Linked DNA regions of Homo sapiens: region 2 is linked to region 1. A link means that fine-mapping ties the variant in region 1 to the expression of a gene that starts in the linked region. Tissue or cell type: whole blood. Region 1 holds a variant in brackets; the other region holds the start of a gene. All regions are shown on one strand. Distances are between the middles of the regions.

What was found. PIP is the estimated chance that this variant, and not a neighbour inherited with it, causes the effect.
Region 2: it holds the start of PIGB, and the variant in region 1 is fine-mapped to the expression of PIGB in whole blood (TOPMed, PIP above 0.99).

The regions. Positions count from the first base shown.
Region 1 is chr15:55,443,563-55,446,322 of GRCh38, reverse strand. The region is part of intron 6 of DNAAF4 (dynein axonemal assembly factor 4); the gene reads left to right. The region is part of intron 5 of DNAAF4-CCPG1 (DNAAF4-CCPG1 readthrough (NMD candidate)); the gene reads left to right. Among named protein-coding and RNA genes, the nearest start is that of PIERCE2, 36 kb to the right of the region's middle. The variant T/C (reference allele first, on the strand shown) is at 1,136.
Region 2 is chr15:55,317,797-55,320,296 of GRCh38, reverse strand. It overlaps PIGB (phosphatidylinositol glycan anchor biosynthesis class B), which reads right to left and starts at 1,075. Exons shown (of 12, transcript NM_004855.5): 1 at 884-1,075; 2 at 1-22. The coding sequence starts at 1,046. PIGBOS1 (PIGB opposite strand 1) reads left to right here and starts at 1,174. Exons shown (of 2, transcript NM_001308421.2): 1 at 1,174-1,433; 2 at 2,430-2,500. It also overlaps a transcript of RAB27A not described here. RefSeq lists enhancers at 816-895, 966-1,045, 1,106-1,195, 1,246-1,315.

The sequences.
Region 1 (2,760 bases):
CCTCTGCCCAGCTGCCCCCCCCCCCCGTCTGGGATGTGAGGAGCGCCTCTGCCCGGCCGCCCCGTCTAGGAGGTGAGGAGCGCCTCTGCCCAGCTGCCACCCCTTCTGGGAAGTGGGGAGCGCCTCTGCCCGGCCACCCCGTCTGGGAGGTGAGGAGCGCCTCTGCCCGGCTGCCGCATCTGGGAAGTGAGGAGCGCCTCTGCCTGGCTGCCCTGTCTGGGATGTGAGGAGCGCCTCTGCCCGGCCGCCACCCCATCTGGGAAGCGGGGAGTGCCTCTGCCCGGCCACCCCGTCTGGGAGGTGAGGAGCGCCTCTGCCCGGCCACCCCGTCTGGGATGTGAGGAGCGCCTCTGCCCGGCCGCCCCGTCTGGGAGGTGAGGAGCGCCTCTGCTCGGCCGCCCCGTCTGGGAGGTGAGGAGCACCTCTGCCTGGCTGCCGCATCTGGGAAGTGAGGAGCGCCTCTGCCCGGCTGCCCCGTCTGGGATGTGAGGAGCGCCTCTGCCCGGCCGCCACCCCATCTGGGAAGCGGGGAGCGCCTCTGCCCGGCCACCCCGTCTGGGAAGTGGGGAGCGCCTCTTCCCGGCCGCCCCGTCTGGGAGGTGAGGAGTGCCTCTGCCTGGTGCCCTTCGTTTGGGAGGTGAGGAGCGCCTCTGCCTGGCCACCCCGTCTGGGAGGTGAGGAGTGCCTCTGCCTGGCCGCCCCATCTGGGAGGCGAGGAGCGCCTCTGCCTGGCCGCCCCATCTGGGAGGTGTACCCAACAGCTCCGAAGAGACAGCGACCATCGAGAACGGGCCATGATGACGATGGCGGTTTTGTGGAAAAGAAAATGGGGAAATTTGGGGAAAAGAAAGAGAGATCAGATTGTTACTGTGTCTGTGTAGAAAGAAGTAGACATAGGAGACTCCATTTTGTTCTGTACTAAGAAAAATTCTTCTGCATGGGATGCTGTTAATCTATAACCTTACCCCCAACCCCGTGCACTCTGAAACATGTGCTGTGTCAACTCAGGGTTAAATGGATTAAGGGCGGTGCAAGATGTGCTTTGTTAAACAGACGCTTGAAGGCAGCATGCTCGTTAAGAGTCATCACCACTCCCTAATCTCAAGTACCCAGGGACACAAACACTGTGGAAGGC[T/C]GCAGGGACCTCTGCCTAGGAAAACCAGAGACCTTTGTTCATGTGTTTATCTGCTGTCCTTCTCTCCACTATTATCCTATGACCCTGCCACATCCCCCTCTCTGAGAAACACCCAAGAATGATCAATAAATACTAAAAAAAAAAAAAAAAAAAAAGGGTATTCAATTAGGAAAAGAGGAAGTCAAATTGTCCCTGTTTGCAGATGACATGATTGTATATTTAGAAAACCCCATCGTCTCAGCCCAAAATCTCCTTAAGCTGATAAGCAACTTCAGCAAAGTCTCAGGATACAAAATCAATGTGCAGAAATCACAAGCATTCTTATACACCAATAACAGACAAACAGAGAGCCGAATCATGAGTGAACTCCCATTCACAATTGCTTCAAAGAGAAAAAAATACGTAGGAATCCAACTTACAAGGTATGTGAAGGACCTCTTCAAGGAGAACTACAAACCACTGCTCAACAAAATAAAAGAGGACACAAACAAATGGAAGAACATTCCAAGCTCATGGATAGAAAGAATCAATATCGTAAAAATGGCCGTGCTGCCCAAGGTAATTTATAGATTCAATGCCATCCCCATCAAGCTACCAGTGACTTTCCCCAAAGAATTGGAAAACAAACTACTTTAAAGTTCATATGGAACCAAAAAAGAACCCACATTGCCAAGACAATCCTAAGCCAAAAGAACAAAGCTGGAGGCATCATGCCACCTGACTTCAAACTACACTACAAGGCTACAGTAACCAAAACAGCATGGTACTGATACTGAAACAGAGATATAGACCAATGGAACAGAACAGAGCCCTCAGAAATAATACCACACATCTACAACCATCTGATCTTTGACAAACCTGACAAAAACAAGAAATGGGGAAAGGATTCCCTATTTAATAAATGGTACTGGGAAAACTGGCTAGCCATATGTAGAAAGCTGAAACTGGATCCCTTCCTTACACCTTATACAAAAATTAATTCAAGATGGATGAAAGACTTAAATGTTAGACCTAAAACCATAAAAACCCTAGAAGAAAACCTAGACAATACCATTCAGGACATAGGCATGGGCAAGGACTTCATGTCTAAAACACCAAAAGCAATGGCAACAAAAGCCAAAATTGACAAATGGGATCTAATTAAACTAAAGAGCCTCTGCACAGCAAAAGAAACTACCATCAGAGTGAACAGGCAACCTACAGAATGGGAGAAAATTTTTGCAATCTACTCATCTGACGAAGGGCTAATATCCAGAATCTACAAAGAACTCAAACAAACTTACAAGAAAAAAACAACCCCATCGAAACATGGGTGAAGGATATGAACAGACACTTCTCAAAAGAAGACATTTATGCAGCCAACAGATACATGAAAAAATGCTCATCATCACTGGCCATCAGAGAAATGCAAATCAAAACCACAATGAGATACCATCTCACACCAGCTAGAATGGCGATCATTAAAAAGTCAGGAAACAACAGGTGCTGGAGAGGATGTGGAGAAATAGGAATACTTTTACACTGTTGGTGGGACTGTAAACTAGTTCAACCATTGTGGAAGACAGTGTGGCGATTCCTCAAGGATCTAGACCTAGAAATACCATTTGACCCAGCCATCCCATTAC
Region 2 (2,500 bases), 130 kb after region 1:
TAAATATTTTCTCCAAGAAGATCTGAAAAACAGAACAAAACAGGTAATAGTGGCACAAAAGTCAGGCAGTTCCACTTGCAAAACTTAAAATCTGCTGCTCTGGTTGGCTCCTTGTAAGGCACAGTAGTGACCTCTGGTCCCTCCACACCATTCTTAAAGCCAACTTGGTTGGTTATACAAGCACCACAGCGTCATCACTGGGTGACTGCCACTCTTTTAGTTTAACCAACTTTTCTTGCAACTTATTGTGTAAAGATAATATTAAAATAAATACAAAAAAAAAAGAGTGGGTTAACTAAGGCCTTAGGCTAATTAATTAGGTCATACTATGTGTGTATCTAATGAAAGAAACCAGCTAACAAATTACTAATTTGGGAAGCAGCCCTTTGTATATGTGCAATATAAAATGGTCCTCTGTACATATATATTGATGATTACTATTATATATGCCAGGCACTGTGTTAATTTCTTCACATGCATCTCACTTAATCCTCCAAACAATATTATGGGATAGGTATTATTAGCCCCATTTTACAGACGAGCAAATTGAGGCCCAGAAATTAAACTGCCTTGTCCAAATAAAGTTGTAAATTACTTATCAGGATTCAAACCCGGGTCTGTGTGATGTCTCCAAAGTCCTGCTCTTGACCACAAATGGACAGCCTGTCGGCCAAATACAGAGTATTTTTTAAAAAATTGAATTTAGTTGCCAACATTTAAAAATCAGAATTTATATTAAAATCTGTGTTTCCAGCATTTCCCAGCATTTCAAAACTCAAGATCTGGCAACACAGAGCTCAACGGGCAACTGGCTGGTAATGAAATGGAGGGGGTTCCTTTTAGATGGGGGTAGGAGCTCTCCAGACAGTGTCCCCTCACTCACCCCCGCGGCGCCTGGCGCTCTTCTCCTGGGTGTTGAAGTACAAGGTAGACTTTCTCTTTCGCAGCTTTATCTTGCCGTGGGAGCGGTTCTGGAGACCATGCAAAGTGAGGCTGGCATCTCCGCCCCCCGGCTCCATTCCGCACTTGCTTAGGGGCCTCCTCATCCCTGGCCGCCACCTTCCTAAGGCGGAAGAAAGCTGCAGTAGCGCGCTGCTCGTCCATCCATTAAGTTTGGCCTTTGAGAGCAGTCGTCGCTCGCAAGCCCGGAAGTAACCGGGAACGGGCAACTTCGTAGCTCCCACCCGACGTGGTGGCCTCCTTGCGGTTTCCTTTCGCCGTTTCCGAACCGAGGGATTGCTACTCGCCTTTGGCTTGGCGGTCTCTGTGCTCGGGGGTCCGAAAACTGCTGGAAGGCCCCCGGTCTCTGGAGGGGAGCAGGCGGTAGCGAGTTTAGTGACGTGGAGCAGGCGCAGAACAGTCGGAGGTACCTGAGTGGTTATTAAAAACGGTAACGGTAATTGTAGACGTCAGTGTTGGTGTTAACATTTCAGGTTCGTTGCTCTCACAAAAAATGCCTGTTCAACGAGGTAGGCAGGGTAGGGATGATTTAGCTTGTTGTACAGATGTGGAAACAGGCCGAATGGTTCCTATTTTTTTTGTTGTTGTTGCTGTTGTTAGGTTTTTTTTTTGTTTTTGTTTTTGTTTTTTTTTTTGAGACGGAGTTTCGCTCTTGTAGTCCAGGCTGGAGTGCAGTGGCGCAATCTGGGCTCACTGCAACTTCTGCCTCCCGGGTTCCAGTGATTTTCCTGCCTCAGCTCCCAAGTAGCTGGGACTACAGGCGCGCCACCACGCCTGGCCAATTTTTGTGTTTTTTTGTAGAGACGGGGTTTCACCATATTGGCCTGGCTGGTCTGGAACTCCTGACCTCGTGATCCGCCCGCCTCGGCCTCCCAAAGTGTTGGGATTACAGGCGTGAGCCACCGCGTGCGGCCCACTCCTCTTGTTAAAAGTAAAACCAGGCCGGGCGCGGTGGCTCACGCCTGTATTCCCAGTACTTTGGGAGGCCAAGACGGGCGGATCAGGAGGTCAGAGGATCGAGACCATCCTGGCTAACACGGTGAAACCCCGTCTCTACAAAAAATACAAAAAATTAGCCGGGTGTGGTGACACGCGCCTGTAGTCCCAGCTTCTCGGGAGGCTGAGGTAGGAGAATGGCGTTAACCGAGGAGGCGGAGCTTGCAGTGAGCCGAGATTGCGCCATTGCACTCCAGCCTGGGCGACAGAGCGAGACTCCGTCTCAAAAAAAAAAAAAAAAAGAAAAAGTATGCATTTAAAACCATTGAGAACATTCTGTAATAGAAAAGGTTTTAGTTTTGTCTTATACCCTTCCCTAATTCACTTCCTGTACTCCTTATGTATTTATATTCTTGTTTTAATTAGTAACATATTATAAAAATATTGTTCACTCCAGTGCAAAGTAGTGACATAACATCTTTTAAAAGGACATTGTACTAAGTGATGGCTTTGCTTTCCATTTTTGTATGCAGATTTGAAGAGATTTCCTGGGTGTGGAGTGTGACTTTCCAAAACCAGCTTTTCCTTGAGCTGTATTTGTTGC